Linked DNA regions of Homo sapiens. The protein of the gene in region 3 interacts with the protein of the main gene of each other region in a pairwise test. Each region holds a gene or a part of one and is shown on either strand. Other genes may lie near its edges. The genes, in order: FAM110A, ZNF410, AGR2, GABPB1, ASPH, THOC1 and IL36RN.

Region 1 (4,545 bases), on a different chromosome or scaffold from region 3:
TGGTGAGTTCTATTGTTACCCCATTTGACTAATGGTAAACTGAGGCTGAGAGAGGCTGAGTCACTAGCCCAAAATCACTCTGGGGAGTCCAGCCTGCGCACTTTCCCTCCAGACCAAGGCTTAACGCCACCACTTTCTAGCTGTGTGTCCCTGACCAGGCTGCGGGACCCTCCTGGTGCTCCATGCTGTCACGTGTAGAGTCCATCCCTCTGGAACAGGCTGAGCCTGAGCATGCCTCAGCTGCCTTGTGAAAACGGTTAACATCGGCAACAACAGCCGTCATAGTAACAACAATAACTAGAATTTTGGGGTGCCAGGCACCATACTCATTTAAATCCCCAGAGCCCCCTCATTTAATCCCATGAGACTGCAGCCCTGCAGGAAGGAATTCCCAGAGGGAGGTGACTGTCACCTCTTCCACCCCAAGTCCTATAACTCACTGCAGGTAGGAACATTTGATAGGCCATTTTTTCATGGGAATCCTGAGGCCCAGAGAAGGAGCTGTCCCCCAGGCCTCAGCCCCAGCCCTCTGCCACACTCAGGCTGAAGAGGCTCCTGTTCCATGTCTGTGCCTGTGGGAGCTGGGCCAGGACTAGGGTACAGGGCATGAGGAGACCGGCAGTGATGCACATCAGCTTTCCTTCCCCCTCAGCACTGCAGCCTCCTCCAGTCCCTGACTTTACAGGGGACGGGGCAACAAGTCCTTCATCCTCCAAATGGCCTGCTGAGCCCTGCCTAGCCCTCCACGGAGGCAGAAATGGGGGATGGGGAGGGAAGGCTCCTTCAGGCGCTAATAGTAGTAACAGCAAAGCAACAATAATGATTTTCGTAATAGCAAAGAAAAGAACAGTCCTTCCTTTCCAGCCCCAGCCCCGGACCCTACAGCTGCCAAGATGCTGATGCCTAAGAAGAACCGGATTGCCATTCATGAACTCCTTTTTAAGGAGGGAGTCATGGTGGCCAAGAAGGATGTCCACATGCCTAAGCACCCGGAGCTGGCAGACAAGAATGTGCCCAACCTTCACGTCATGAAGGCCATGCAGTCTCTCAAGTCCCGGGGCTGCGTGAAGGAACAGTTTGCCTGGAGACATTTCTACTGGTACCTTACCAATGAGGGTAGCCAGTATCTCCGTGATTACCTTCATCTGCCCCCAGAGATTGTTCCTGCCACCCTACATCTGCCCCCGGAGATTGTTCCTGCCACCCTACACCGCAGCCGTCCAGAGACTGGCAGGCCTCGGCCTAAAGGTCTGGAGGGTAAGCGACCTGCAAGACTCACAAGACGGGAAGCTGACAGAGATACCTACAGACGGTGTTCTGTGCCCCCTGGTGCTGACAAGAAAGCCGAGGCTGGGGCTGGGTCAGCAACCGAATTCCAGTTTAGAGGCAGATGTGGTCGTGGACGTGGTCAGCCACCTCAATAAAATTGGAGAGGATTATTTCACATTGAATAAACTTACAGCCAAAAAAGAAAAGAACAAATCTCATCTGAGCACTTTCTTTGTACCAGACACTGTTCTAAGCTCTACAAAATGTTAACTAATTTAATCCTCACACCTACCCTGTGAGGGCTACTATTATTATGCCCATTTTCAGATGAGAAAACTGAGGCTCCAAGAGGTAAGGCCACGTGCCCAAAATTACACAGCTGATTAATGGTAGAGCCAGGATTGGAACCCAGGCTCACATCTGGGGAGGGGAGGTGGAAGAGACGGTGTTTTCAGTGTTGGGCTTTGGCCACTCACCAGATGTGCCCCCCAAGGAAGTCCCAAGGAATCTACTGCCTCGTCGGCTGGACCCCAGAGGGAGAAACCACCTTAGGAAGCACTCCCTGGTCATGGTTCTGAGTCTCGGTTTCCTCTGCTGTAAAATGGGGGCAATAACGGCAATGTTTTCCCAGCAGAAATAAAGTCTCATTACTGCTGTGTTTAAACCCTCCTGTGGCTCCCTTACAATAAAATCCAAGCTCCCTGCAGTGAGCTGAGATTGAGCCACTGCACTCCAGCCTGGACAACAGAGCAAGACTCTGTCTCAAAAAAAAAAAAAAAAAAAATCCAAGCTCCCCACTTGGCCCTCAGGCCTTCCAGGACTCAGTCCTTGTCCAAATCTCCCATCTTATCTCCAACCTCTTTCCTGCTCTGGCCACAAAGCCCTCCCTGCTGTTCCTGAACATAAGGTCTTTCCTGCCTCAGGGCTTTTGCACCAGCTGTTCTCTGTCTGGAACCTCTTCCCTCACCCCCTTCAGATCTCATTTCAAATGTCATCTCCTCCAAGAGACCCCCTCAGCAATTTCACCCATTTTATTCCCTTCCGAGCACTCATTACATCCTGTCATTTTAGATACTCTTATCTAGGATAGGAAATATAACTCGTTTCCTGTCTCTCCCACTGGACCATGAGCTCCATCACACCCTTCCAATTTTCTTCCTTCAGGGACCAAACACGAGGAAATACCGTTGAACAACCGGCTGTTCTGGACCCAGCCCACCTCAAAGGCCAAGGCCACTCATCAAGAGGTATATATTAAATGTATAAAGCTTTTTCTTATATCAGTAAGAAAGAGAGAAGAAAGAAAGAGAGGAAGAAAGAAAGGAGAGAAAGTTAAACATATCTGTCAAGAATAACACAAAAGTGATGTTGTGTCCTTCTTAGTACATGGTATCAGAAGGCTTCTTTTTTCTTTTTTTAGAAATGAGGTCTCACTGTGTTGCCCAGGTTGGAGTGCACTCCATAGCTCACTGCAGCCTCAAATAGATGGGCTGAAGCAATCCTGCCACCTCAGCCTCCTGAGTGGCTGGGACTATAGGTACATTACCACACCCACTCATAACAACAGTTTGTCTTAATCTTAGTGATCAGCCAATTCCTTGGTTAAGGCAGTATCTGCCAAATTTCTCCACTGTACAGTTATTATTTTCCCTTTGTAATTAATAAATATCTTGTGAGAAGAGAAAAAAAAAAAAGGACAGGGTCCCTAAGCACCAAGCCTCCTCCCCAAACCCTCACCGTGCTCCTGGCCTTTCCAGACCTGTCCTACTCTTCCTCCAACTTCAAGTCACCCCCATTCAAGCTGGGCTCTGACCACTTCTACCCAAGTCCTGTTCTTTCTCCAAAGCCACCATATACAAACCTCTGCACACACTGGTTCTGCTGCCTGCAGTGGTCTTCACTACTCCATCCCCCTGGCCATATCTGTAAGGTATAGCATGGACTCCAGAACCCATTCAAATCCTAGCTCCACCAATGATTAGCTATGAGACCTTGGATAAAATACTCAACTTCTCCATATCTCAGTTTCCCTAACTGCAAAACAGGACTCACAACAGTGCCTCCCTCTCTGCATGAGGTCCATGCATGACAAATGTCACCAAAGTGCAGGCTATGATAACTATTCAACCAAATAGATCATCCAGTGCCCAGCTCCTGAGGGAGGGCTTCATCAGCCCAGAAAGCTGATCCACTATTCTCAGAGGTTACAAATCTAAGAGAAGCACAGGTAATGGTTAAGAATGCAGAGTCATGACTGGGTGCAGTGGCTCAAGCCTGTAATCCCAGCACTTTGGAGGCTGAGGCAGGTGGTTCACAAGGTCAGGAGTTCAAGACCAGACTGGCCAAGATGATGAAACCCCGTCTCTACTAAAAATATAAAAATTAGCCCAGCATGGTGGCGGGGGCCTATAATCCCAGCTACTCAGGAGGCTGAAGCAGGAGAATCATTTGAACCCGGGACACAGAGGTTGCAGTGAGCCGAGATGGCGCCACTGCACTCCAGCCTGGGCGACAGAGCGAAACTCTTGTCTCAAAAAAAAAAAAAAAAAAAAAAAACAATGCAGAGTCACTTGAACAGACATTTCTCCAAAGATAACAAATGGCCAACAGGCACAGGAAAAGATGCTCAACACCATTAGTCATTAGGGAAATGTAAATTAAAACCACAATGAGACACCACATCACACCCCTGAAGATGGCCATTACCAAAAAAAAAATACAAACAGAAAATAACAAGTGTTGGTGAAGATGTTGAGAAATTAGCACTTTGTGCACTGCTGATGGACACATAAAATGGTGCAGTCACTGTGAAACACAGTAAAGTAGTTCCTCAAAAAATTAAACAGAATTGCCATAGGATCACCCAGCAATTCCACTTCTGAGTGTATACCCAAAACAATTAAAAACAGGAACTCAAACAGATATTTGTACATTCATGCTCAAAGCAGCATTAGTCACAACAGCCAAAAGCAATCCAAGTGTCCATCAAGGAATGAATGGATAAACAGAATGTGGCATATACATAGAATATTAGAATAGATTATTCCGCCATAAAAAAGAAAATTCTAACACATACAACAACATGGGTGAAACTTAAAGGCATTATGCTAAGTGAAATAAGCCAGACACAACAAGACAAATACTGTTATGATTCCATTTATAATACCTAGAGGTACCCAAAGTAGTCAAATTCACTCAAACAGAAAGTAGAATGGTGATTGCCAGGCACTGGGGGGAGAGGCAATGGGGAATGTACTTAATGCCACTGAACTGTAT
Region 2 (4,545 bases), on a different chromosome or scaffold from region 3:
TGGTTTACTTTTCCAGTGGTTCTTTTTGCATATACAAGCAAATGCAGGTTATTTAAGTTGAGATATAGTTCACATACCATAAGATTCATCTCAAAAAAGTGTGCAGTCCGGCCGGGCATGGTGACTCATGCCTGTAATCCCAGCATTTTGGGAGGCCGAGGTGGGTGGATCACCTGAGGTCAGGAGTTCAAAACCAGCCTGGCCAACATGGTGAAACCCCATCTCTACTAAAAATACAAAAATTAGCTGGGTGTGGTGGCATGTGCCTGTAATCCCAACTACTCAGGAGGCTGAGGTGCAAGAATCACTTGAACCTGGGAGGGGGAGGTTGCAGTGAACCGAGATCATGCCACTGCACTCCAGCCTGGGTGACAGAGTGAGACTCCATCTAAAATATAAAAAGAAGAAAAGGGTGCAACTAAGTGATTTTTAGTAGTAATATAATTATCCCTTGTTATCTGTGGTGTATAGGTTCCAGGACCCCACAGATACCAAAATCCACAAATACTCAAGTCTCTTACATAAAATGGCATGGTATTTGCATATAACCTACACATATCCTCCCATATGCTTTAAATCATCTCTAGATTACTGATAGTACCTAATACAACGTAAATGCTATGTGAATAGTTATGCTATATTGGTTATTTGTATTTTTTATTGCTATATTGTTATTTTTTATTTATTTATTTTTTTAGATGGAGTCTCGCTCTGTTGCCCAGGCTGGAGTGCAGTGGTCCACGATCTTGGCTCAATGAAACTTCCACCTCCTGGGTTCAAGTGATGCTCCTGCCTCAGCCTCCCAAGTAGCTGAGATTACAGGCATGTGCCTGGCTAATTTTTATATTTTTAGTAGAGACAGGGTTTCACCATGTTGGCCAGGTCTTGGAACTCCTGACCTCAAGTGATCTACCTGCCTTGGCCTCCCAAAGTACTAGGATTACAGGCATGAGCCACTGCGCCTGGCCTGTTATTTTTTATTTTTATTTTTTCTGAATATTTTTTATCTGCTTGGTTGAATCAATGGATGTGGATGGCCAACTATATATTCATAGTTTTACAGTTTTCTCTACTGTCCGACTCCACAACATTTCATCATCCCAAAAAGGATCCCCATATCCAGGAGATGATTAAAAAAAGAAAAAGAAGTCCCATTATTAGTATCATTGACCATGTCTCTCTTTCTCCAGCCCCTGGCAACCATTAATCTGCTTTCTGTGTCTGGATTTGCCTGTTCTGGACATTTCATATGGCCTTTTTTTTTTTTTTTTTTTTTTTTTTTTCCCCTAAACGGAGTCTTGCTGTCTCCCAGGCTGGAGTGCAGTGGCGTGATGTCGGCTCACTGCAAGCTCTGCCTCCTCGGTTCACGCCATTCTTCTGCCTCAGCGTACCGAGTAGCTGGGACTACAGGCGCCCGCCACCACGCCCGGCTACCTTTTTGTATTTTTAGTAGAGATGGGGTTTCACCGTGTTAGCCAGGATGGTCTTGATCTCCTGACCTCGTGATCCTCCCGCCTCAGCCTCCCAAAGTGCCTGGATTACAGGAGTAAGCCACCGTGCCCGGCCTTTTTTTTTTTTTTTTTTTTTTTTTTTTTTGACAGAGTCTCACTCTGGCTCAGGCTAGAGTGCAGTGGCATGATCTTGGCTCACTGCAACTTCCACCTCCTGGGTTCAAGCAATTCTCCTGCCTCAACCTCCCAAGCAGCTGGGATTATATGCGCCCGCCACCACGCCTAGCTAATTTTTGTAGAGATGCGGTTTCACTATGTTGGCCGGGCTGGTCTTGATCTCCTGACCTCAAGTAATCTGCCCGCCTCGGCCTCCCAAAGTGCTGGGATTACATGTGTGAACCACTGCACCTGGCTAAAATAAATTTATTTTAGATTCAGGGGGTACATGTGCAGGTTTGTTACAAGGGTATATTCCAAGATGCTGAAGTTTGGGCTACTAATGACCCTGTTGACCAAGCAGTGAACATAGTACCTGATAGGTAGTTTTTCAGCCCTTGCCCCGTAGCCGCTTTTGGAATCCCCAGTGTTTATTGTTCCCATCTTTGTGTCCATAAGTACCCAGTGTTTAGCTCCCGCTTATAAGTGAGAACATGGTGTTTGATTTTCTGTTTCTGTGTTAATTTGCTTAAGATAATGGCCTCCAGCTGCATCCATGTTGCTGCAGAGGACATGATTTTGTTCTTTTTTATGGCTGCATAGTATTTCATGGTGTGTATGTGCCACATTTTCTGTATCGTATTTACCATTGATGGGCACCTGGGTTGATTCCATGTCTTTGCTGTTGTGAATAGTGCTGCATTGAACATGTGAGGGCAAGTGTCTTTTTGGTAGAGCAGTTTATTTTCCTTTGGGTAGATAGCCAGTAATGGGATTGCTGGTTCAAATGGTGATTCAGTTTTTAGTTCTAAGCTTTGTAATATTCCACCCTGTTTCTATTGTATAGGTTTTTTTTTTTTTTTTTTTTTTTTTGCTATGCAGGACTACTGCAGTATCTATAGCTTTTTAGTCAGTCTCTGTGATGAATATTTACGTTGTTTCCAGTATTTAGCCATTTAAAATAATGTTGCCGTGATGAATAACCTTGTGCACAGAGTATTTCACATTTTGCTGCTGTAATTTTGGGACATATTCCTAGAAGTGGGATTCCTAGGTCAAAGGGCAAGTGCATCTACAATTTTTCTAGATCTGGTCAGATTCCCCCAAAGAGGTTTTTGTATTTTGCATTCCCAGCAAAATACAATCAGCAATGATGATTGCTGTACCATGTGTTTGTCAATTGTGAATTTGTTCCTAGCATTTAGAAATTGGGAGATTCTACTTAAAAATCCTTATTTCCAGTGTCTTAAAAAAAAATCAGAGAATCTGCCTTAATCTACCCATGGCAACAGTTGGCTAGAGCTGAATAACAGCTGCCCCTTTTCTAGGTACTCTCTAGGTTACTGCAGCCCCCACTTGGCCATTTTACTTACTTTTGCTACCTATCAGTCTCCTATAGACATGAGTTTTTGACCCCTGCTCTAAGTATGGTTTTCTGGGTAGGTAGAATGGAGACGGAGAGTTTGGGACTTGAAGACATAGAGGACAATTTAGATTATTATGTTGTAAGAGCCACCAGTGTGAATGTTGATGACCCTAAAGAGGGTGGCAGGGAATATGACAAGGGGATATTAGGAACACAGGATTGAAATCCTTGAGGAAAGCACATGTCCTAGAGGTCCATGGAAGACTAACTGAAAAAGAAGGCATATTTTTTGTGGTTGCCATGGTCCTATACCAAAGAGGTTTTGTGAAGGCAGCATTACAGAAGGTCTGGAAAGGACCAGCAGCTGGGAGCAGGGAGTGTGCTAAAGCCCTCCTGGTGTACTCTTCCTGCCTTCCCCCATATACTGAAGTTTGAGAGGCTGGGAAGGTGCGGAATGGGAAAAGGAGCAGCTGCTTATGTTCAGTTTAACATTCTCTGGGTTTCTCCATCTAGGTCTTGAGTTCATTCTCTTCCTGTCCTTTTGGCTTCCTTGTTTAACCTGGTCCCTGTTTCAGGAGAGAAGCCTCATCAGTGCCAAGTCTGTGGGAAGACCTTCTCTCAGAGTGGAAGCAGGAATGTGCATATGAGAAAGCATCACCTGCAGCTGGGAGCAGCTGGGAGTCAAGAGCAGGAGCAAACTGGTGAGGAGGGTGGGCATAGTGGAACGCTGTACTACTTCTAGGGTTCCAAGAGCCAAATCACTGTCCTGCCTGCTTATCTGGAAATTTTCTGATTCTGTTTTGGGTAGATAGACCTGGTCTCATTTGATGGGCTGATGGTTTCCAAACATAGCTATACAGTAGAATCATCTGCAACCTTTTAAAATTTATATACTTTTTGTTGCTTGTCCGCCCACCAATAAAACAAAGCAATCTGATAAATGAGATAATTTGCAAGATCCTAGAATCTGTAGTTTTAAAAGTTTCCCTAGTGAGTTTGATGGTAACTAGTGCTGATCCATGAACAAGCATTTGAGTAACACAGTGATAAAAGATTTCCACATGGGAAGAGTTTAAGCTTTTTAATTTTTTTAGATGGAGTCTTGCTTTGTCACCCAGGCTGGAGTGCAGTGGCGCCATCTCGACTCACTGCAACCTCTGCCTCCTGGGTTCAAGCAGTTTTCCTGCCTCAGCCTCTTGAGTAGCTGGGATTATAGGCAGGTGCCACCACACCTGGCTGATTTTTATATTTTTGTAGAGACGGGGTTTCACCATGTTGGCCAGGCTGGAAGCATATTTTATTTACCAGTCATGACTACCTTTTTGCCCTGCCTGAAATTTGATAACTCTTTTTAATTCTTATTCCTTCGCCATATCTTTCCTTAATTATTCCAAATATTCCTTTCTAAAGATCCACCTATCCTGTTTCATATGCTAATTCTTCAGACGCTGAACACAAGCAAGGATCATTATCTTCTAAGGCTTACTCTTTCCCTTCTAGGTTTATTCTTGTTTCTCGAAAGTAGGTGAAATAGGGGGTGGCATCCCATCTATAGGTTAACTTCTAGTAATG
Region 3 (4,545 bases):
GGAATGAATTTCTAACTTTAACTTAAGTAGCAACATGTGGCAAATGGTTAACATATTGGACAGTGCAGTTCTAGGCAGCCACTACTAATTGATCAGAGTTGGTTCCTAGGATAAAACCCACTTTTCTTCCCAGAGGACTAATCAGATGTCACAGCTAGCTACAGCGTTGCATTGAGGTACCTCATCTGCCTTAAGTCAGTGTCTCTCTCTCTCTCTGTCTCTCTTCCATTGATGGCAACCATAGGGAAGGTAATTTTCTTGGCAATCATTTGGATCATCTTTGAAACTGATCTTTAAACTGAACCTGAATTTAATTTTAAGCTGGACTGCACATTCTTTCACTTTTGTTATTTAAAAAATTAAGACATGCAGATTATTACAATTATTACACTCAGTTCTGTGATAGAAGGAGTGTGTGCTCGTGTACCTAACAGAAAACCTGAAAATCAGGTAATGTGGTCATAGAATCCTCCTAGAGAAAAAGATACCTAATCTAAATAATTCATCTTCAATTGAGATTAAAAACAAACAAACCTGAGATGGAAAGAGTGTGATTTGCCTGAAGATGCAAGGCTAGTTAGGGTCAAACTGAGTCCGAGGCGTCCCTAAGCCTAGCTCTCTCTCACCTCACCATGCAGCCTCTAGTCCCATCACTACAGCAATAGAGGTGTTCAACTCTTGGGCAACATCCGAATTGAAGGTCACACTTACACAGAGCTGTATCTGCAGGTTCGTAAGCATAGAGACGATTTGAATATCTTCCAGTGATATCGGCTCTAACTGTCAGAGATGGGTCTGCAAAGATAAATGAAGCAAAAGGGAATGGAATGGTTTGTTTTCAAACAACCTGTATTTATTGCCCCGGGGAGCTGAAGTTCATGTATTCATGTCCTGTGAGGGAATGGAGTGTGTCTGCACTCACAGGAGCTCTGATCCATCCACTCTACTACCCAGCCCCTGGCAGTTAGTAGCAAATGCAGGGCTGGAAACATCAACAGCTGTGCAGTGCTATTTGTGGAAAAGGTTATGAACCCTTCTGTTCTATCTATGGCAACCTGAAAACAGAATAATATATATTTAGGGGTGACATGGTGTTTTTTTTTTTTTTGGTGAAAACATTAACATTCTCTACTGCAAAATTATTTTAAATTCTTGAAACGATTATGTTGTAGTTTACATGTTTCTAGATCATTGGAAACCCACATCCAATGCTAGTTTTCAAAACGAGTTTTTTAAAAAAAGTTAATAGAGGAATGCAAGTCCTTAACAACAGCAAAGTTCAAATAAGCATATAGTACCTTCACTATATTTTACTTTATTGTTAATTAACTGCATTTTTAAAAGTAGAGATTGGTCTTCTCTTATGTATACTTATATCCCTCTAAATTTAAATCCATCTTGCCATGTTTTGTATTTAACTTGAAGTGATCTAATTAATGAGAAAAAGAGGTATTTTAAAATTAAGGTGCATCCAAAAGGGAAGCGTGAGGATACAGAGAGATCTGGAAACCTTGCCTTGAGAGACGTAATCGAAAGAACCTAGGACACGTGCCCTGAAAATGAGACAAGGAAGACATGTGAGAACCATCTGCATGTTTGCAAAGTCTGTCGCTGGTACTGGAGTGGGCAATCTGTCATTTCAGAATGTTGGACTAAGGCCAGACACATAAATTACAAGAAGCAGATGTACATTTATTCACCAGATTTAAGACCAACTATACTTCTGTTTGGTGCAGAGGATACAAAGACACGGTCTAATCTTTGTAAGAAATTAACCTAAGAAGGGCTTTTTAAATACCCAACTAGCAGCTCACCTGGCTGCACATTGGAATCATCTGGAGAGCTGTAAACACTATGGATGCCTGCCTCCCACCCCCAGAGATTCTGATTTAATTGGTTTGAGGTGTGGCCTGGGCAACTTGATCTTTAAAATCCTCCAGGTGATTCAAACATGTAGTCAGGGTGGCTACTACGGAGCTAGAAGAGCAAGCTGCCTTGGAGCTGGTTCTTAGGACTGAAGGAATTGAATGTGGGTTAAAATGCCCTTCCACAGGGATGCTGTACAAAGAATTCCTGTACAAGGTATGAACAGACATCTATAAATTCCCTTTTAATGTTAGGATTCCAAATGTCCTAAATTCTGACAAAACTAAACCTATAAAATTAGTGCTTTAGTTCAGCCTTCTTCCTTTTTTTCTATTTCTTGTTTTTCTTTTCCCTGCTTTGTACATTCAGTGTAAACTTTTAATGAATTACACAGGTGAATCATATGATTAGCATGAATTGTTGTAAGTGATGGATTTCATTATGGATTGTCCTTAAATCAGTATGACTTTGAACAAAGCCAAACTCAGTACATTCATTCAATAATTAAACACATATTGATGGAGAGCCTACTGCAGGGTCACGTTGGGAATATCATGGTGAGCAGAAATAGGTACAGTCCCTGCCATAGGGGCTTATAGTCCAATGTGGGAAATATTTATTACATAACCACCCCCAAACTGCAAAATTATACCTGAGGAAAGTATGACTACAAGAGCACATAGTAGGGATTTGACTCGGTCAATGAATAATGATGATTGGGGAGTTAATGATGTGAAATTGGGGGACAGAGAAGGAAGTGGGGAAAGCATATGAAAAGTACCAGTGGCAGGAAGGAGCATGTGGCTCCTTTCATTTCTTTTTCCCACCTCATATTCCTTTTTTTTTTTTGAGACAGAATCTCGCTCTGTTGCCCAGGCTGGAGTGCAGTGGTGCCATCTCGGCTCACTGCAACCTCTGCCTCTTGGGTTCAAGCAATTCTTGTGCCTCAGCCTCCCAGGTAGCTGGGATTACAGGCTCCTGCAACCACGCCTGGCTAATTTTTTTTTTGTATTTTTTAGTAGAGATGGGGTTTCACCTTGTTGGCCAGGCTGGTTTGGAGCTCCTGACCTCAAGTGATCTGCCGGCCTTGGCCTCCCAAAGTGCTAGGATTACAGGCGTGAGCCACCCAGCCTTATTCCTAACTTTCTTAAAAATAATGATAAAAAATGTCAGAAAAATCTAACACACAAAGTGAAAGTTTGCTGGATTAAAAAATAAATATTTGCAGGCCTCTCGTATTCAGGAAATTTATCAATATGTTTAAATAGTGAATAGGGTGCTTTGTTCTCAGAAGTATTATAGCAGAAGATGAAAAGTTACAATTAGCATGTGAGAAAAGAAAGTGTTGTGTGGAAATAGGTAAAAGCTCACATTTTCTAAAGAAAATATGTTGCGGAACTTAAAGGAATGTCATGCTCCTTGCTAGAGCTTAGTGATGACATTGGCCATGGCAACGTGGCAAGGGACAGTGGGGAGGAGAGAAGGAGGATGGCAGCACTAGTATGTGTTTCCGAGTTATCTCACTGTCACTTCCGCTTACCAACAAACATAATCCTGGGGACATACTGGCCATCAGGAGAAAGGTGTTTGTCAGTTGTTTCATACTAAAATAAAAAGAAAAGCATCTTTTAGTTTACTTTGACTTTTCAGTCGTTTTCAAACTTGTTAATACAAGAATCTGTCCATTTCCGGCCAGGCATCTCAAGATATCATAACTCTTCCACACAGAGTTTATTGTACAGATGAGGAGACAAGTTACAAGCATGAAATAATAAATAAGATAGAGCAGAACATGAGATAAAGTGCTGAATGGATGTGATAAAGAGCAAAAAAATTAAGGGAGAATTTGGAAGGAGTTACTGTGTTTGGGGAAGACATCTGGGATGAAATAAGAGGCTATTAAGGAAAAAAGCAGATGTCATTTCTAGAGAAATTACGGAGACAAGTACGGGATTTTCTTGAGTATTCATTTATCCATTTATCAATTTTTATTTAGAACTGTATTTAGCAAGGCATGGTGCTTATCTTTAATGAATGCACACTCTATTGAGAGATACAGGTAGGAAAATGAATATTGAGGATGCAGTGGGTGAAATGTTACGGTGTAGGATATGCAGGTTTGGTGATTGCCTTGAGCAAGACATTTAGCCCAGAATGCAGATTCCACCCCGACTAGGACTTTCTGAAGTGGATAAGGAGGAATCTTTACAAATGAACAGGAGTCAGTTAGGTGGAAAAGAAAGACACTTCATGCAGGGGGAAGAGTATGGAGAGGACAGGTGGAGCATTTTCTCCTATGGCCAAGTGCTGGGGAAGGACTGAGTTGGGGGGATGCACGAGGGCAGTGGCGAAAGAAGGTGCTAGAGCTGCTTCAGGGGCCGGCTTAGGAATGACTTTGCACACCATGCCATAGTGTTTTCCTTTGTTCAGAAATAGTTAAGAACCACTGGAGGGATGTTAGAAGAGGCACTGTGACCCCAGTTTGGTCTGTAAAGCAACTTCTCTGACAGCCATGTGGGATTAGACAGAGTTTATCTTGTAGACCAGGAGCCATTTAGCAGTATTACAGTAAGCTAGGGAAAGTGAAAGAGGCTTACTAAAATAGTGGTCCTGAGTTTATAGAGAAGTGACTAGTAGCAGGAATACTTGGAATTTAGAAGCACAGGGCTTATTGCATGC
Region 4 (4,545 bases), on a different chromosome or scaffold from region 3:
CTCGGCCTCCCGAGTAGCCGAGACACAAGCACACACCACGTCTGGCTAATTTTTGTATTTTTAGTAGGGACGGCGTTTCACCATGTTGGCCAGGCTGGTCTCGAATTCTTGACCTCAAGTGATCCGCCCGCCTCGGCCTCCCAAAGTGCTGGGATTACAGGCATGAGACACTGAGCCCGGCCATTTTTTTTTTTTTAAACTTTGAAACTTTTTGGCTGGGCACAGTGGCTCACACCTGTAATTGCTGCACTTTGGGAGGCCGAGGCAGGCAGATCACAAGGTCAAGAGATCAAGACCATCCTGACCAACATGGTGAAACCACGTTTCTACTAAAAATGCAAAAATTAGCTGGGCGTCGTGGCGCGCACCTGTAGTCCCAGCTACTCGGGAGGCTGAGGCAGAAGAATCGCTTGAACCCAGGAGGCGCAGATTGCACTGAGCTAAGATCGTGCCACTGCATTCCAGCTTGGCGACAGAGTGAGACTCCATCTCAAAAAAAAAATTTTTTTTAAATCATAGTATCAGTATGCTGAGTATTTTTTAAATCAAAGGAGATGGAGGTGGACATTTTCCATTATTTCATTTTAATTGACTTTAATTTACCATGCACTATAAAACTATAAAATACCATGAAAAGATGTTTTAATATTATAAAATAGGACTCAAAATTAATATTTTATAGGTTCCTTATCTTCAATTCCAAAAATCCAAAAAACTTCTGAAACCCAAAATAACTCATCTTGTGGTAAACCTTACCCAAACTGATATGAAGCTATTTACAGTCTTTATCCTATTTAGTGCGAACATTCATACATTTTGTTGCAGAAACAGTAACACTTTTGAAGGGGGATATTGCACTGGACTCTATTGGAAGGCTACACATTACTACCTTGCCCATATAAAAAAAAAATTCCTAATTCCATAACCTATTAGACCCTAAGAGTTTGAATGGTGGACTGTGATCCTATAATTGCTAACATTTATTGAGCTATTAACTGTTATGTTTCAGGTACTGTTCTGTTCACTTTATATGAAATAACATTTAATCTTTCCAATCATCATGAGCTAAGTATTATAATAATCCACATTTTACAAAGAAGGAAACTGAGCCACGGAGAGATTAAGTAAACTGCCTAAAATCACACAGCTAGAGTATGACTAACTGGGATGACACTGGGATGAATATTTAAAATATTACACATAAGAGTAACAACACACAACAAAATAATTGATTATGGTAGGGTGGTAGGAGTGATATGTTTCTCTACTCAATTGATATTACTTCTAGAATAAGGAATCAAACAAAAAATTACAAAACACTACATGCATTTACAAATTCTCATGTACAATTTCTACAAACTTGCTTAAAATGCAGAGTATAAAACCCAAATTTCTCAGCTTATGCTAACACATTTAATTTTTTATTGAAAAGTTACATCTTAATATCTTAATTACAACATGATAGATAATTTATATTCATTGTAGAAGTTAGAAAATTTGGATAAGCAAAAAGAAAACAATCACCTGTAAAACTACACTCAGAAATAACCATTTAACAATTTGGCACATATCCTTCCAGACATAATATATTTTTGGGTTTTTTTACCAAAATGGAATCATGTTTTTAAATTTATTTTTTCTCACTTACATATACCAAGACATCCTTTCATGTCTTTATATTATTCTATCATCATTTTCATGGCTGAGAAGGCAGTACCCCACTGTAGGGATGGACCCTAACAATCACTGTGAAACATTTAGGTTGTTTACAATTTTACCATATAATGATCAATAGTACTGGCTCTAGAGTCACACTGGTTGGATTCAAGTCCTGGCCCTAACACTTAACTAACTCAGGTACCTTGAGCAAGCAACCTCATTTCTCTATGCCTGTTTTTTCTTCTGAAAAGCAGAAATAGTACTACCCACTTCATATGATTACCGTGGGGCTTAAAGGCATTAATACACAGCTTTTATAATCAACAATACTGCATCTAGTATGCTCACAATTAAATATTCACACACATCTTTACTACATCAAAAAAAAAATTCTTTAAAGGGAATTTCCATGTCAGAAGGTATGCCAATTTTTAAAGCTGCTGAATCTACCAAATTACAGTGTGGTTTAAAGCCCTTCATTAAATAGCCTTCTCACTTAATACTCATTTCTCTTTATCCAGGAAGGCAAAAACTATTATCAAGTTAACCAGTTTGTTTCACTCAATTAGCTTTTTGTTCTTCCACCTGTAAACCTCGGCATATTTAATAAAACCTCAAAGTTTATAGGTAACTTGAAGACACCTAGCTCAAATTCTCCTTCAGTACGATTCCTCTACTCTAGAATCCCCAATTTGTCAGTGAACAGGAACAGCCTACCACCCAAAACAACTCATTCTATTTTCACAATTTTGAGGAAATTTATCTTGAAAGAGAATTGAAATCTGCTTCTTTTAAACTTCCACCCACTGACCCTAGTTCCTTCTGGTCAAGTCAAATCTGATCCTTCTGCATGACAGAACTCCAAATCCTTAAAAGTGGCTGTTACTTCTTAAAAGAAGCTCCTCTTCTTTAGGTCAAACATCCCATTTTTTCAACTTTTTCTCATTTCCATTTCTCTCATGATCAAGGTCCTCGTTTATGCTCTACAGATAAGTGATTTTGACACTTAGGTGTCTACCACCTTGGAAATGAGAAAAATTAAGGTCCGTTCCTACCCTACTTAAGTTTGGGCCTCTGTGTGGCTTTTTATTAGCTCTCCAGATGATTCTGATAAAGTCTGAGAATGAATACAAGGTCTCACTTATGATAGTATGCTACCCAAAAAGCCAACACAATACCCCAAATATAATATAACTAGTACACAGTAAAGTGGGGCTAACACCTTGCTCTGTCAATAAGCTGTTCTACCAACTTCAGAATTATTCACAGATGGGTGTGTTGGCTGACGCCTATAATCCCAACACTTGGGAGGCCAAGGTGGGAGGATCACTTGAGTCCAGAAGTTTGAGACCAGCCTGGGCAACACAGTGAGATCTCGTCTCTACAAAAAATTAAAAAATTAGCCAGACATGTTGGCAGGTACCTGTAGTCCCAACTACTCAGGAGGCTGAGGCAGAGGCAGGATCGCTCGAGCCTGAAAGGTGGAGCTTGCAGTGAAGTATAATCGCACCACTGCACTAAGCCTGGGTAACAGAGAAAGCAAGACCCTGTCAAAGAAAGAAGAGGTGCAAAGGGGAAAACAGGGAGGGAAGGAGAGAGAGGGAGAGGGACAGAGGGAGAAGGAGAGAGGAAAGAGGGAGGGAGGGAGGGAGGGAGGGAGGGAGACAGAAAGGTGCACTAGCCCACCAACTGAACTGACAGCTGATTGCACCAAAGCATCTTCTTTGTATAGAGCACTGTGATGTCAACACTGAGAAAAAACACAGGCCCTAATACTGATCTCATCTAGTGCTAGATTTACCTTCTAGAAAGCATGATGGAACAAACATCTTCAGAAAACTATAATACTAATTGTAGCTATCCCAATGTAGGCACATCAGAGCTATAGAAACATTGTGATTACTAGCTGGAAACCATACTAGTTGTTGGGGAGGAGAGGGGAGCAGAGGGATGACACTAAGGAAACTAAGTTGCTCTCAACTTCAAGATTTTGTGTGGGTTTGTTTTTCAACGTTTGCAAAGTCAGAAGAGATGGAGGCCATCAGTGAGTTCATCTGAACTCAGGCTACTTGCAAACAGAGACTGGGTAACTGCCTCGTGCACCCTCAAAAATAAATTCATGATGCAAAACTTCATGTAATTTCTGAATTTCTGAATTCCTCATGACGTGCACTTTACCTGTTACCTGTTAATATTTCTGGTACTGAGGGGCAAAAGAAAAAAGTAAAAAAAAATTCATGGTACAGGAGATGTGGTCCATTACAATGACACAATGTTATGGGAAAAAACACACTAAAACCAAGCATACTTTTTTTTTTTTTTTTGAGACAGAGTTTCGCTCCTGTTGCCCAAGCTGGAATGCAATGGCGCTATCTTGGCTTATTGCAACCTTTGCCTCTCTGGCTCAAGCGATTCTCCTGCCTCAGCCTCCCGAGTAGCTGGGATTACAAGCGCGCACCACCACGCCCAGCTAATTTTTTGTATTTTTAGTAGAAATGGGGTTTCACCGCGTTAGCCAGGCTGGTCTCAAACTCTTGACCTCAGGTGATCGGCCCGCCTCCACCTCCCCAAGTGCTGGGACTGCAGGCGTGAGCCACTGTGCCTGGCCAAACCAAGTGAACTTAACCAAGATCCAATCTATTTTCGTTTGAACAGCAAACATTAAAAGTACACCTGGTATTTTCTAACAATTACACGAAGAATGACCAGATGCTTCCTGTTGATGGAACAGTAGAGAACTATAGACTGACAGATTCAGACTACAGTTCACAGAAACAACTGGAAACAAACTTAGCTTCCTTTCAAAGCCATTAAAATACGGCCTTAAATTTTTATGCATTAATCAATTAAGTATAATTGTCTCCCAATAAGTATAATTGTCTCCCA
Region 5 (4,545 bases), on a different chromosome or scaffold from region 3:
AATTCAAAGGAGGAAACACAAGGCTACTCTTACCAGTAACTTCACTAGTAATTAGAAAAATGCAAGTTTAAACCCTCAAGTACTACTTCACAGCCACTCAACTGGCAAATATTAAACTTCACCAAATGTTGACAATGTGATGATGGCACAGAACAAGCTCTTATTCATTAGGGGCAGAACTGTAAGTTGATACAACCACTTGGGGGTTAAAAAATGGCAATATCCAGTAAAGTCTAATGTGTGTACTTTCTATGACCCACAATTCCAATTCCAGATTATGCCCTAGAAAAACACTCAGACATGTATGCATGGGGAGAGATAGGCACATACATGTACAGGGCAGCATTATTTGAAAGAAAAAAAGTGGCCTGCGATAGGATGGCTAAATGAAAAGCAAGGCATATTCATATGGTGTAGAACTACATATGTGAAAATAAAGAACTGGAGTTTGGAGGAATTTCAAACAAATGCTGTCAAAATAGTATGCCAAGTAGAAGCCTGTTCACAAAACTTTTAATACGTGCTATACAGTATATATACATATATGTGTGTGTGTGTATAGGTATATTTCTACACATAGGGATATAGATATACTTCCTGGGCAGTTTTCAAATACATTGATTTAATAATAGATACAGTTTACATGTGTGGATACATAATGTGTATGTGCTACATGTTATATATTATTTTGTGCATATATACCTGTATTTATGATAATGACTACCATAAAATGTTTAACAATGGTTAGGAAGGAATACCACAGGAGAGGAAAATCTAGGAATCTGATAATGTTTCATTTCTTCGCCTATATGGTCAGTACATGGGCATCCACTGCATTACTCTCTACAATTATTTATAGGCTTAAATATGTACTATTTCAAATACATACAATTTTAAAGAGCAATACACAGAAATATTTTTATTATAAAGGTTAGAGAACTAGCTCTCTGCCAAAAAGCAAATCCATGAAACAACTTACAAAAACTCAGTGACAAGCATCTTATACAAATTGACTTGATTCAAAGAATGGAAAAGTAGTTAAATGCTAGATATTCTTTCAACAAATATTTACAACACAGATTTTGAGGTTTATGTAAGTCAAAAAATTAAGTGTCCTAAATAAAATTTACAAGTGAAACTAAGACCAAAAGAGTCTTTCCAGTATACCAAGAAAATTGAAATTGAAAGCAGCCTGTGAAAGATAGGGACAAAAACTGTATATTAGAAGAATAATAAATAAGAAAAAGAAGTTACAGACAGGATAGAACAACAAAATAATAGTGACTCTGCACTATGGAATGGTAGAAATGGCTGTCAAACCTATGTAAAATATGAGAAAAGGCAGTTACAACAATGCTGGTTGTGAAATAAAATTATCAAAGGATATTCTCCTACTTTAAATTTAAGACTGATCCTTGGGGTCTTAAGTACAGGATGAGTCACTGGGTTCAACGTGTGGGCACACATGTAGGAGAGAAGTGCTGGCATTTCTCCAAGTACAGAGATAGTGGCTGCCCTTGGAAACCTGACTATAACTGGACAGCAACCACTCCCACCCCCCAGCCCCCCACCCCTCAACCAAGTCAATTCACCAATGCTCTCCGCTCTGGAGCACACATAGTATCTACGGCAGATGATGACAGTCACATGACTAGGCAAGTGACCTGAATCTCACAGGGGGCCGAATAGCCCAGATCCTTCAAAAGATGATTTTCTTTTTAAAAAGAGTTATTCACCAAGGGAGCTCAACATTTCCTTTGAGTCTAATAGGTTATCTAAACCAAATTTGTCCTCAGCTGTGGCCAATTTGATAGGAACTGAATTACATTCAGTGATTTGCCGTTAAAAGATAACCACATCAGCCAAAGGTAACCAAGACACATCCCTGAAAAACAAAGATCAAATGCAGGACAAAAGCCTGAAGCATCCCTCACATCAGGGGAATAAAATACTAAAATTTTAAAAATAATGACTAACAAGAAAATACCATCTTGGCTCCCAGCAGTACCAGAAGAAAGTATAATTAAAAAAAAGTTAAAGCACTGGCCTCCAGACTATACTCCCACAGTGGTACACAGGGAAGAAAAGAACATCCTGAATCCTTAGTCCTCTAATAAAAATGGCCAGAGCTGCAGGACCGAACCAGAGAAACTCATCACACCCACATGTGCAGTGCAGAGCAGACACTGGCAGCAGATAATGAAGCAAGCAGCCCTTGCACCTCCACATTTCCCGATAGATGGCTGAGGCTTTTCCCCGGAGGTTTAGGTGGGGTGTACATAGGTTATATGTACATACAGGGTTTATTAAAGAGAAGTTCATTTGAAAAACATTTTTGTACCTTGGTACAGAATGAAGTCAAGCCATTTAGAGGTGATATGGAAGTATCCAAGCCACAAACTAAGCTGCATATTTTCATGATATTAAAACAGTGGCTGGAGTTACCTCAAAAGACTAAATATATCTGAGCCTGGGTAAGATAAAATAATGTTACAGATTTCTGAGCCATTAAGGGCAAATCACCAACTTGAAAGTTGATGTGCAAATGGATACTTACACCTCCAGAAGCTGAGAGAAATGTATCGAGCAGTCCTCAAAGCATAGTATAAACTCTATCTCAAGAATATACATTTTACTTAACACAAAGATGCTATGGAACATGAAAATAAATAAATAAATAAGAATAAATCATCAAAAAAGTCAAAGCATGCAATGGCCTGATGACATCTACACTTTTATAGTCTCCAAAGTTTTGCACTCACCCCTACTATTAGACGTACTTTAACGGAAACAACTGAGAAACACAAAGCCATATGAAATCAGCATTAGTGATATCAAAACTCTGAAAAGAAAGTAGATAATAATTCTTTACATTTAAGGAGGCTGGGAACAGAGATTTTTAGCGATTCTTGGTTCTGATTCTTACACAGATATGATCCAGGTCATCATATTCCTTCTCCCAAACTGCACTAGCTTTCTGGAGAAAAGGGTTTTTCTATTGGAACCAGAGAGCTCAGGGGCTAAGTATCTGATATTAACTAACAACAAGATGGATAGACCCTATGAGCCTTTATCCAAGTTCCTCTGTTGATAACTGGCTGAAAATGAAAATGTCATACATTCATTTTCTAATAATCTCTATGAGACAGATTATTTTAAAGCAAGACTAAAATATAGTCCAAAATATAGAACTTTCACTTCCACAGACCACCAGAGGTTAACTGGTCTCTGGAAAATGTGTTCATAAACTCCCTCAGAACATTATTTAGTGCTTGGTTTCATATGATTTGGTCAGGATGGACAAAATGCTGTTGAACTGAACACAAAATAGCTGACGGTTCTTGCAGTGGAAGAATTATGGTCCTCCTATGTTTTCATCTTAGAATGAGTAATGGAGGATTAAGCAATTGGCTCTGATGGTCTTTGGCTAAAGAAAGAAAATTTTGCTAGGGCCTCTTCATTCAAGGGCTCCACAATGCAATCAGCAGTGTATTGAATCCCTCAGTTACTTAGTAATCTAAGAGACACTCAAAGTAGAAAGAAAAAGGAAGCTAAACTAAACTCAGAAGTGTGTTTCTAAATGACAAATACTCATCAAATGAAGCTGTTAATGTTTTACAGGCAGTACAGGAATATATTTCATTCTAATTAAGCCTAAACAAAAAGGCTGCTCAATCTACTGAGACACCTTGAGAGAGTTAAAAAGTAGCTAAGAGTTTTTAAGTGCTTATCTATCAATAGTTTTGAGTATATACAGACGGATTAAATAATAATTAAAACCTGCTGTTACATAACCCCAAGCTTCAAACTAAAAGGGGGATATATTCTACAGTGACACCTAGTGGCAAAAGTTAATGTAGTAGCAGGACACCCAGACAAAATAAACAGGGAGATGGAAAGCTGCTAGGAGATACAGGGAGTTAAGGGGTGATACTCAAAAGGGAAAAACTAAACAAACAAACAGAAAACATTACACATACGAGTGTCTACAAAATAAGCCCAAAAGGACATCATGATCCTTCTTTGTCAAACTATTTTCAAATCAATAAATTTGAAAAAGGCTTCCCCTGGGCCCAACTGGCCATGCAAGTCCAGTTCTATATGCAAAATAAAGGTAGGAAGTCTAATTTATTCATGTTTCTTTTATATTATAAAGAGTAAAACTGAAAAAAAAGTAAAATTGAACTCTGTAGAAAACCATTTTATCATTTTTCAGCTTAAGCTGAAGAAAATAAAAAGCAGACACTTGCTTTAAAAATCTGTGATATAAATTCCCCAAATTCCAGCTTCCAAACATCACTTTTCAGCAAAAAAACCACCAAGATAAAGTTTGGCCAGGAAAAAAAAAAGAAATCACCTTTTCCCTAAAATGCATGTTTCAAATGACTGGGTTCTTTTTTCCCCATACGTTTACACAACAACTTAAGAAATAATAATGTTTAATGTGACCAATGCCGTCATTTTCTGACTCTCAATGTAAGACATATCAAAAAACGTACTATTTGAACACATATACTTCTTCTCAAACTAAAATTTCAAATAGTG
Region 6 (4,545 bases), on a different chromosome or scaffold from region 3:
TCTCAAACGTAACAGCCAATGATAACCAGACACACAAAGAGGCAAGATACCATGAGTGAGAAACAGTCAAAACAGACAGGAGAAACAGACCCACCAAGACTTATTTAAGGTATTGGCATTACCAGATACAGACAATAAAGTAACAATGTTTACCAAGTTTAGAAAACTAAAAAAAACAATTCTTAAGAAATTATTCAGAATCAGGTAGAGAGAGACAAACAGATGAAAAAATATATAAGGAGTAAAAAACAGAGGATACAGTGAGAAGGTATAATGGATGTTTAATTGAAGTTCCAGAAAAAGAAAAAGATAAAGAGGCATACACAATATTTGAAGAGATAATGGCTAAATTTTTACAAACTAGATGGAAGAATCTAATCCATACATTCAAGATGTCCACAATCCTAAGCAGGACAAATAAAAAGAAATTTACACAGAGATACATCATAGTAAAACTAAAAGAAAACCAAAGGAGAAAAAAAATCTTAAGCGCAGAGAAAAAAATGTAGATTATCTTCAAGAAGTGAGACTGACATCTGACTTGTCAATAGAAAAATGGGAAACAGAAGACAAAGTAAAGATTATTTCCCGTGAGATGAAATCCTGTATCTAGTGCCAATCTAGAATCTTATACCTATTGGGAGGAGGTCAAAATACCAATATTAACAGGAGTTTGGAAGAAAGAAAGGAAAAAAAATAAAGGAGAAGTAACGATTTTTAGGCAAAACACAGACCTGCACTGAAGAAAAGTCTAAAAGGGAAAATGATCACAGACAGAAAGCCAGAAATACAAGAAGTGGTAAATCTATATTAACCCTGACCACATAAAATAAGTATGAAAGAAAACAGCACAGACATAAGATGACAAAAAGAAAGCACATAAACCACTGCTAACATATGCTATAGGTCTTTCTACATGCAGGCACTAATGTAAGCTCTTCACATGTTTTAATTCATTTAATCCTCAGAACATATAAAGTAGGTGGTACATTAGCCCAATATTAAGGAAGGGAGGACTGAAGCAAGGAGATATTAAAATCTCGCATATTTGAACATACTGGGGAGGCGGAAGGCTCTGGAGGACAAGCAATGTCCCATTTCAGGAGCTAGATAGTGGTTATACAGTATTTGTTTCATTATTATTCGCTTTATGTACTTTTCTATATGAGCGTTATATTTCACAATAAAAATTTGTTAAAAAAAGAGAAATGAAAGGAAGTCTATATAGCTAAATAGTTGTGACTGAGAGAAAATCCAAACACAAAAATAGGCATACATTATGAAATACGGATATGATGGTTCATATCTACATGTTTCAGTGTGATTCAACTTTACATTAATAAGCTTTGAACTTAAAAGAATCCATGACTTTGTTTCAGGATTACCTGTATTATATACTAGGACTGCTATACATTTATAAGTAAAAGAAAATAAAGTGACAATTTCTATGATGTCTTTCAACTTTTTAGAACCATTTTTCTCATTATCATGACAGATTTTAATCTATTAAAAACTGGAAAAGATTTTCCTGCAGAAAACTCATTTAATGCATAAAAGCTTACCTGATTTCTCAGACAGAGGGAAAAGCCTGGCCAAAAAGAGCTGAATCCGTCCACAGAAGACTGTATTCTGGGATTTAGACAATCTTCTTAGGAGATCTAACAATATATGAAAATGAACGTTACACAGAAAAGATAATTCTATGTTTATTACAACCACACCTAAAAGTTTCTAAACCAGTGTGTCAAGAGTATTTTCCTAAAGCAGTAGTTCTTAAATTGGGGGCCGAAACCACTGCCACAAAAAAGTACTATAAATTAGGAACAAAACAAGTTCAACATGACATGAAAAAGACAAACTTTACTACGTTTCTGACTTTAAGCTTATGCCCAGAACAAAAACAGTTTAAAGTGAATAATGAGTTCTAACAAATCAGATTGTTAGTTAAAAATGCAGATACCTAATCTATCTTTAAAATGTTATCACTGGTATTTAATTCAACCATGTGTTTTTCTGGGCATATTTACACTTAAAAAGCAATCATTTTATCACTCAATTACTTACCATTGCACATACGTAGTAAGTAATTTTTCCCAGCAGAATAGAATGTATTCTGAAATTAAGACGGAAATTATCACTCTTCTTCAGAACTTGTTACACATTCTTCAATAATAAGTTGCCAGAGTGAAATATTAAAGAACACTAACATGCACTGAGAATCTACTATGCCACTTTCACTTTTTTTAAGCAAATAACATTTTCAATGAAATAAAAATATTTTCAGATATAAGAAAACATGATACTAAGTAACTGTTTTAAACATGTGAAAGTGTGAATTTTCAAGTTAATTTTTATTACACAAATTAAATCAAATTTTGTATTTCAAGTTTTTCTCCACACATGGTTTTTATTTGGCTCTCCCGAGAGAGCAGTATATAATTTTTTCATAGGCAGAAACTTGTTGGCATTCAGCAATACTACAAATAAATTTAAAAAAAAAAATCTACCCTCAGAATTCTGGATCTATAGAAAGATAAAGTTAGCAGGAAAAGAAACTAAGGCACTTACTGATTTCCAAGTAGCAACATTTTTTTCCACAAAAGTGAATATTGTGTCACACTGATCCAAAGGAAGACAATCCAAAACATCTCCCAACAATACAAAAGGTGTAGATGCGGTACAAATACCTTCAAGTGGAGCACAAGCCAATTTAAAAGTTTAAAAAACTGTAGAGTAGAATAGCCTATGAAAAATAATTCTGAAGAATATCTTAAAAGGTACACTTTGTTACTCATAACAAGGTTTTAAAAGGACAAGAAGTGGAAGCAACCTAAAAGTCCCCAAATAGGACATACTTAAGTAATTTTTGATATGTGCACTCAGTAATGATGACAATAATTCTTGACAAGATCTAGAGCATTTACTATATGTCAGGCACACTAAGTACTTTACATATACTAACACATTTAATCCTTACAATCCTATGAGGTAGAGCATATCATTATTTGCATTTTATAGAATGGGAAAACTGAGACACAGAGAGGTTAAATAACTTCACCAAGATCATAGAGCCAGTAAGTGGTAGAGCTGGGATACGAACCCAGGCAGTCTGGCTCCACAGTCTGTTTTCTTCACCACTAAGCTATTCAAAAGAATATAATGCAGCCAATTAAAAATGATGGTTATAACGACTATAATAACTTGGAAAAATGCTTATGATATAATGCTAAGTGAAAAAAGGCAGGATTCAAAATTGTATGTACATATGGTTATGACAATAAAAAAAATTCTTAAAAGACTATAGAAACTAAAACCATTATACCAGATGAATGGTAGCTTTTAAAAGTAGAGGAATTAAGAGTACTGTTTTCCCTTCTTATTTCTAAATGTTTTGTAATGTTGCTAAATTGTCTTTGTGATTTGAAAAGATTATCTTCAAAAAATAACAAGGTTTGATATTAACTATGATTCAACATTTAAAATAACAGTATTGTTTCAGGGGAAAGAATGGAAAAGTAGAAAGTTACTGTTTAAAGAACAACAAAATTAAGATTTTTCTTAAGAAAAGGTCTACGTAGTCTATCTAGACTACTTAGAATACTTTTATATCCCTACTCATTCTTCCTTCTATTTTAAGGCAATGAGTACTTACTAACACTCATAAGTGTTTAAGAAAAGTAGTCACTTAGGCATGGTATATGGAGGAAAAATATCTAGGGTGATCTAAGCCCAAAACAGTGCATTAATATACTATGTCCAGAAAAAAGGAAGAAATATTTCCAGCTGTACTCTGCACTAGTAAGATCATATCTGGAATGCGACGTGAGGGATATTGCCTAGAAGCAGTGGGTGAAATAAAACAGCAGATTTCAACTCAATACAAGGGAACACACCAATAACCACATTTGTCTAACAGGACTCAAACAGTGAGCTCCACTAATGAGCATGATTCAGCAGAGGCTGAATGACCACCCACCAGGGATGTTACAGCAGAGAAGCAGTCTAGGCCAGAGATGAGACTGGACTAGGTGACCTCTAAAGTCCCTAACAATACTTAGATTCAATGATATTATATACCCTGCACATCCAAGAGATTTGAGAAGCATATTTTCTGCCCTTAGTTGCAGTATAGCCTGGAATAAGTTAACTCACATTTAATAATTATAGAACTTTTTCTAGATTCTACTGCCAAAATTCTGAGTCAGTAGAACTAAGCAAGGTTTGGGAATCTCATCTAAAAATAGATTCACTGGTGGTTCTGATGAGCCAGCAAGTCTGGGAACCATTGGGTTATAGTGTGATTCCCCCAAGAGCTTTCACAACCTGTGTCCCAGCTTCCACACCAATCTCTCTCCTTACCCTTACCTGGGCCACAGACATCCCTTTCTAGTTCCCACTCCCCAGTTCCCAAACACCATGCCATGTTCATCCTTCCATGGTTTTGTTCACAATGTTGTTTTCTGCATACTCTTCCTCCTCTTTACCACATGGTAAATTTCAACTCCATCTTTCTAAGCATAGAGTGAATGTCAGCTCATCTAAATA
Region 7 (4,092 bases), on a different chromosome or scaffold from region 3:
AGAGGGCTCCCTGTGCATTGCTTTTTTCAGGATAATACCTCCCACATCGTAGCCTCTTCCCTACAGCCTGCCCTTGGAACATTCTCTGTTCCTCGATGTCTGCAATTTGTACAAACCCCACATGATGTGAGTATTGCATCTCTGTAAATACAGGTCCAGGCCAGTGATTTATACCAAAATTGCAGAAATCTAAAGCCACTAACTCTTTTTCACTTGTAGAGTCATGATGTCCAGCCTGTACATTCCTGAAGGAGGCATTTTATATTCCTTCTTTTACTACTGACTTGTGTCGGCTCATCATGGCTAAAGCTCTTCTGAGTTCTGTCATCCTACAAATGAGGAAGCAACAAATTCAGGCTGGAGAAACCTTCAAGAATGAGGTGGAATTTAAGCTGCTCCCTTAGAGGTGGGCCTGTTTAGATGGGTGGAGGAGAAGGAGAGAATATTCCAGGGTGGAGAAATAGTTTCTACATTATATACTCATTGGGTTTCCATTATGTGCCAAGCATTATGCAAGGTGCTAAGAGACAAACTTATATGTCCCTAACCTTAAGGTCATCCCAGGGGCCACAGACTCCAAGTTAAGGTACTACAGTGCAGGGAGGTGCATACAAACATTGCCAGATCAGATAGCTGGGGGTGTCTCAACTCAGTAAAAGCTTCTTGGAGGAGGTGACATCTTAGCAGGGTATTGAAAGATGAGAGATTTATCTAGGCAGAGAGGATGGATGGAGGACCCAAAAGCAGAGGGAGCAGCACAAGACTGTGTCTGGGCCCATGGACAAAGAGAGTGTGAACAGGGTCTGAAACACAGCCTAGCATCCGGAGCTCATGTTCTTGGCAGCCCTGAGAGGCCTGGGGTAGGAGCTGTGCTGCCTGTTGCCTGAGGACTTCAGCTGAATCTGGGCTGGAGCTGTGAGGTCCATAGAGGCAGCCTTGTCTGTCCTGGCCACCTCCTTGCCAGTGCCTCAGTGGACTCTCAACCACCAAGCTGGTCCAACAGGTGAAGTGCAGGTGGAATACCTGGGGCTCAGATATGGGCTCCTCCTCTGGCTTCTGCTCCCATTCCCCAGGGTTTGGGTGGGGACACTGGAGTTCATTCCTGGCACATAGGACAAGAGGATCTCAATCTTGCAGAACCAGATGACTCAACAAATGCTGTATTATTAGCTTTTAAATAGAATATTTGGGTAAATGAAGGATAGTTGTTCATTGTGAGAAAGAAAATAAAAAATATTGGAGAAAATTGCAATAATAAAACAAATGCATTTGTTTCTCTTTCTCTGCATATTATTTATCTATTGCTGCATAACAAGTTAGACCAAAACTGAGCAACTTAAAACAACAAACATCGATTATCTCACAGAGTCTCTGCTTCTAGGTTCACTAATGTGGCTGTGGGCAGGAGACTTCATTTTTTACCACGTAAGTCTCTTTATAGGCCTGCTCATAGCATGGCAGCTAGCTTCCCCCAGAGCGAGTGAGCCAAGATAGATTGGGGGCGGTGGGTGGCAGAGAGAGAGGGCTCAAGTAGAAGCTGCAGTGTCTTTTATAACCTAATCTTGGAAGTGGCATGCCATCACTTCTGCCATATTCTATTGGTCACAAAGACAACTTTGGTACATTGTGGGAGGGGACACACACAGAATGTAAACACGAGGAGACAGGGATCATTTTAGCAGCTGTATTAGTTTCCTAGAGCTGCTGTAACCAATTATCCTTGGTGGCTTAAAACAGCCGAAATTTATTCTTTCTTCGTTCAGGAGGCTGGAAGTCTGAGATTAAGGTTTCAGCAGAGCCGTTATCCCTCTAAAGCCTCTAGGGAAGAATTCTTCTTTGCCTCTTCCAAGCTTCTGATGGTTGCCACAATCCTTGGTGTTTCTTAGCTTGTGGCTGCAAAACTCCGATCTCTGCCTTCATCTTTACATAGTCTTCCCCGCATCTCCTCTGTCTCTGTGTCCTCTCCTTTTCATACAAGGAAACCAGTCATATTGAATTTAGGTCTACCTTCATCCAGCATGACCTTGTCTTAACTAACTACATCTGCAGAGACCTTATCTCCAAATAAACTCACAGACTGAGATTCCAAGAAGGATGTGAATTTGAGGGGGACACAATTCAACCAGTACAGCAGCCTTCTTAGAGACTGGATCCAATGCCTTGGAATCCCAGGGGCTGTGATCCTTCTAGGAAAGAATTACCAGATGATTTTTGTTCTTTAAGTTCCTTACCCAGAGATTCCAGCCACACAAACTCAGCACAGCCTCCTCCTCAGTGGCTTTGCTGAGATCTGTTTCCTGATCACTACTACAACCAACCAGAGCAGCAGAGCTCGATTCAATTTGAATTTACTCTGGGGAAGTGGAGGCTGAGGACAATCAGAGATGATGTCTACTCTGCTTACCTCAAGATTAATTTCTTTTCTTATTTTTATACAAGGAATTCATCTTCATTGTAGAAAAATTAGGAAATACAGGTAAATTAACAGAATTAAAAGAAAAATCACCTATACTGCCACCACCCTGACATTGCTACAATTGAAGTAAACTCTTCCAGACTTTTTTCTATAAAGAAATATATAAATAGGTATCTTTTAATTAAAATAAATTGCAATATATGCCACTTTGTAAGTAGGTCTTCTCAATATGTCATGAGCACTTTTTCATGGGAATAGAGACCAGCATCTGGGATTTTGATTGTATCTTGGGTTTTTAAAAGAGGATCAGCATACCCTACTTATCTTTTATCTTCTGAGCTCGAGCCATTTCTTCTGACATCAGCACCTCCTCATGCCCACAACAAGATGATGAGGGAAGAGATAGGAAAGGTAGCATATGACAGTGGCAGGATTAAAGGGAAGGAGGTGGGGCTGGGCCAAGGGCCATAGATCCCTGACTCTATGACCACCTCCCTCTCCTGCATAGTGGTGAGTGACAGGTCTTCATGTGGAGAGCTACTGACCCTATAAGGCTCAACTGGGGATGGGTTGGCCTGCGGGGCTCAGGGTAACACTGGTCAGTTACCATTAAGCAGGAATGATTCCCACCACTCCCCCACCCCACCTCCACAGAAATCTTTTCATGTTATTCCCAGTTTACCCCACATGGTTTTTACAAGATTCCACAGCAGTAGCACCATCCAGTGGGGGAGGACCGTGGACTGAGCTCCAAATCTCAGAATTTATCCAAACTGGGAACCAGAAGACAAAGTGGTCAGGTGCCCACTAAGTCAGACGTGGGGGTCCTGAGAGCAGAGAGAGTGATTGTCCGCCATGGGTCTCCTCCACTCACCCCTCACCCGAGCTGGCTCTGCCCAGGGAGTTCTGGGGGGCACGTTGCCCTAGTCACACTGCTGGAAGTAGAAGTCTGTGATGGGGGCATTCCAGCCACCATTCTCGGGAAGCTGGGTGAGTCTGACAGGCTGATCGGCTTCAGGCACCGTGCACAGGAACCAGCCCGGGTAGGCAGCCGACTCGAAGCTGGAGGTGAGCCCCATGTCCCGCCGGTAGAAGGTGAAGCTCTTGGATTCCTTGGCACCAAGATAGAGCTCCATGATGTTCACTGGCTGCCGGCAGAGGAGGGGAGGTCAGGTGAGGGCAGAAGCAGGGGCAGAGGGAGGGCTGGGCAGGATCCTTAGGGAGGAGGCAAAGCTGCCATCAACAGAATCCTGCTAGGGTGTCCCACAGCACCAGGGCTGTGGGCTGCCCGGCTTCAGTAGGCTCAGCATCTGTGGCTGAGTCCCCAGTGAGGATGCCCCAAGTCTCACCTCTAGTGTTAGAGTCGGCTCCTGCCCCACCCCACATGACAGGCACTGGCTTCCACCCTGGACACCCAGGATGACGGGGGACAGGCTGGCATCCAGCCACCGATTGGGGACCACGCTGATCTCTTCACCTGTGGGAAAGAGGCCAGATGCAGGGCCCTGGATGCCTTTCCCTCCTTCTTCCCCTGTCCTGGGCTCTAGGGCACAGGACTGCTGTAAGACGGCCTGCCCCCAGGCTGGGCAGAAGGGAGGCTTCTCAGCAGCTGTCATGACATGGCTTCTCCTGTCCACTGGCTCAGAGTGGACATCAAGGCATGGAAGCACATTGTA

The links.
Region 1: the proteins of AGR2 (region 3) and FAM110A interact in binary tests that used the Homo sapiens proteins (3 or more experiments, as listed by UniProt).
Region 2: the proteins of AGR2 (region 3) and ZNF410 interact in binary tests that used the Homo sapiens proteins (3 or more experiments, as listed by UniProt).
Region 4: the proteins of AGR2 (region 3) and GABPB1 interact in binary tests that used the Homo sapiens proteins (3 or more experiments, as listed by UniProt).
Region 5: the proteins of AGR2 (region 3) and ASPH interact in binary tests that used the Homo sapiens proteins (3 or more experiments, as listed by UniProt).
Region 6: the proteins of AGR2 (region 3) and THOC1 interact in binary tests that used the Homo sapiens proteins (3 or more experiments, as listed by UniProt).
Region 7: the proteins of AGR2 (region 3) and IL36RN interact in binary tests that used the Homo sapiens proteins (3 or more experiments, as listed by UniProt).

What each region holds. Positions count from the first base shown.
Region 1 is NC_000020.11:836,326-840,870, reverse strand, and holds part of FAM110A (protein FAM110A), read right to left. Parts: exon of another isoform or gene 856-4,545; intron 1-855.
Region 2 is NC_000014.9:73,917,432-73,921,976, forward strand, and holds part of ZNF410 (zinc finger protein 410), read left to right. Parts: intron 1-3,548; coding exon 3,549-3,674; intron 3,675-4,545. UniProt on the Homo sapiens protein: Transcription factor that binds to the sequence motif 5'-CATCCCATAATA-3', and is specifically required to silence expression of fetal hemoglobin in adult erythroid cells.
Region 3 is NC_000007.14:16,794,225-16,798,769, forward strand, and holds part of AGR2 (anterior gradient protein 2 homolog precursor), read right to left. Parts: intron 3,471-4,545; coding exon 3,407-3,470; intron 796-3,406; coding exon 712-795; intron 1-711. UniProt on the Homo sapiens protein: Required for MUC2 post-transcriptional synthesis and secretion. May play a role in the production of mucus by intestinal cells. Proto-oncogene that may play a role in cell migration, cell differentiation and cell growth. Promotes cell adhesion.
Region 4 is NC_000015.10:50,348,369-50,352,913, forward strand, and holds part of GABPB1 (GA-binding protein subunit beta-1 isoform beta 2), read right to left. Parts: exon of another isoform or gene 568-4,545; intron 1-567.
Region 5 is NC_000008.11:61,707,316-61,711,860, forward strand, and holds part of ASPH (aspartyl/asparaginyl beta-hydroxylase), read right to left. Parts: intron 1-4,545.
Region 6 is NC_000018.10:257,618-262,162, forward strand, and holds part of THOC1 (THO complex subunit 1), read right to left. Parts: intron 3,504-4,545; exon of another isoform or gene 3,101-3,503; intron 2,688-3,100; coding exon 2,569-2,687; intron 2,114-2,568; coding exon 2,065-2,113; intron 1,659-2,064; coding exon 1,563-1,658; intron 1-1,562. UniProt on the Homo sapiens protein: Component of the THO subcomplex of the TREX complex which is thought to couple mRNA transcription, processing and nuclear export, and which specifically associates with spliced mRNA and not with unspliced pre-mRNA.
Region 7 is NC_000002.12:113,061,925-113,066,016, reverse strand, and holds the end of IL36RN (interleukin-36 receptor antagonist protein), read right to left. Parts: intron 3,894-4,092; coding exon 3,766-3,893; intron 3,565-3,765; coding exon 3,340-3,564; 3' UTR 1,273-3,339; downstream 1-1,272. UniProt on the Homo sapiens protein: Inhibits the activity of interleukin-36 (IL36A,IL36B and IL36G) by binding to receptor IL1RL2 and preventing its association with the coreceptor IL1RAP for signaling.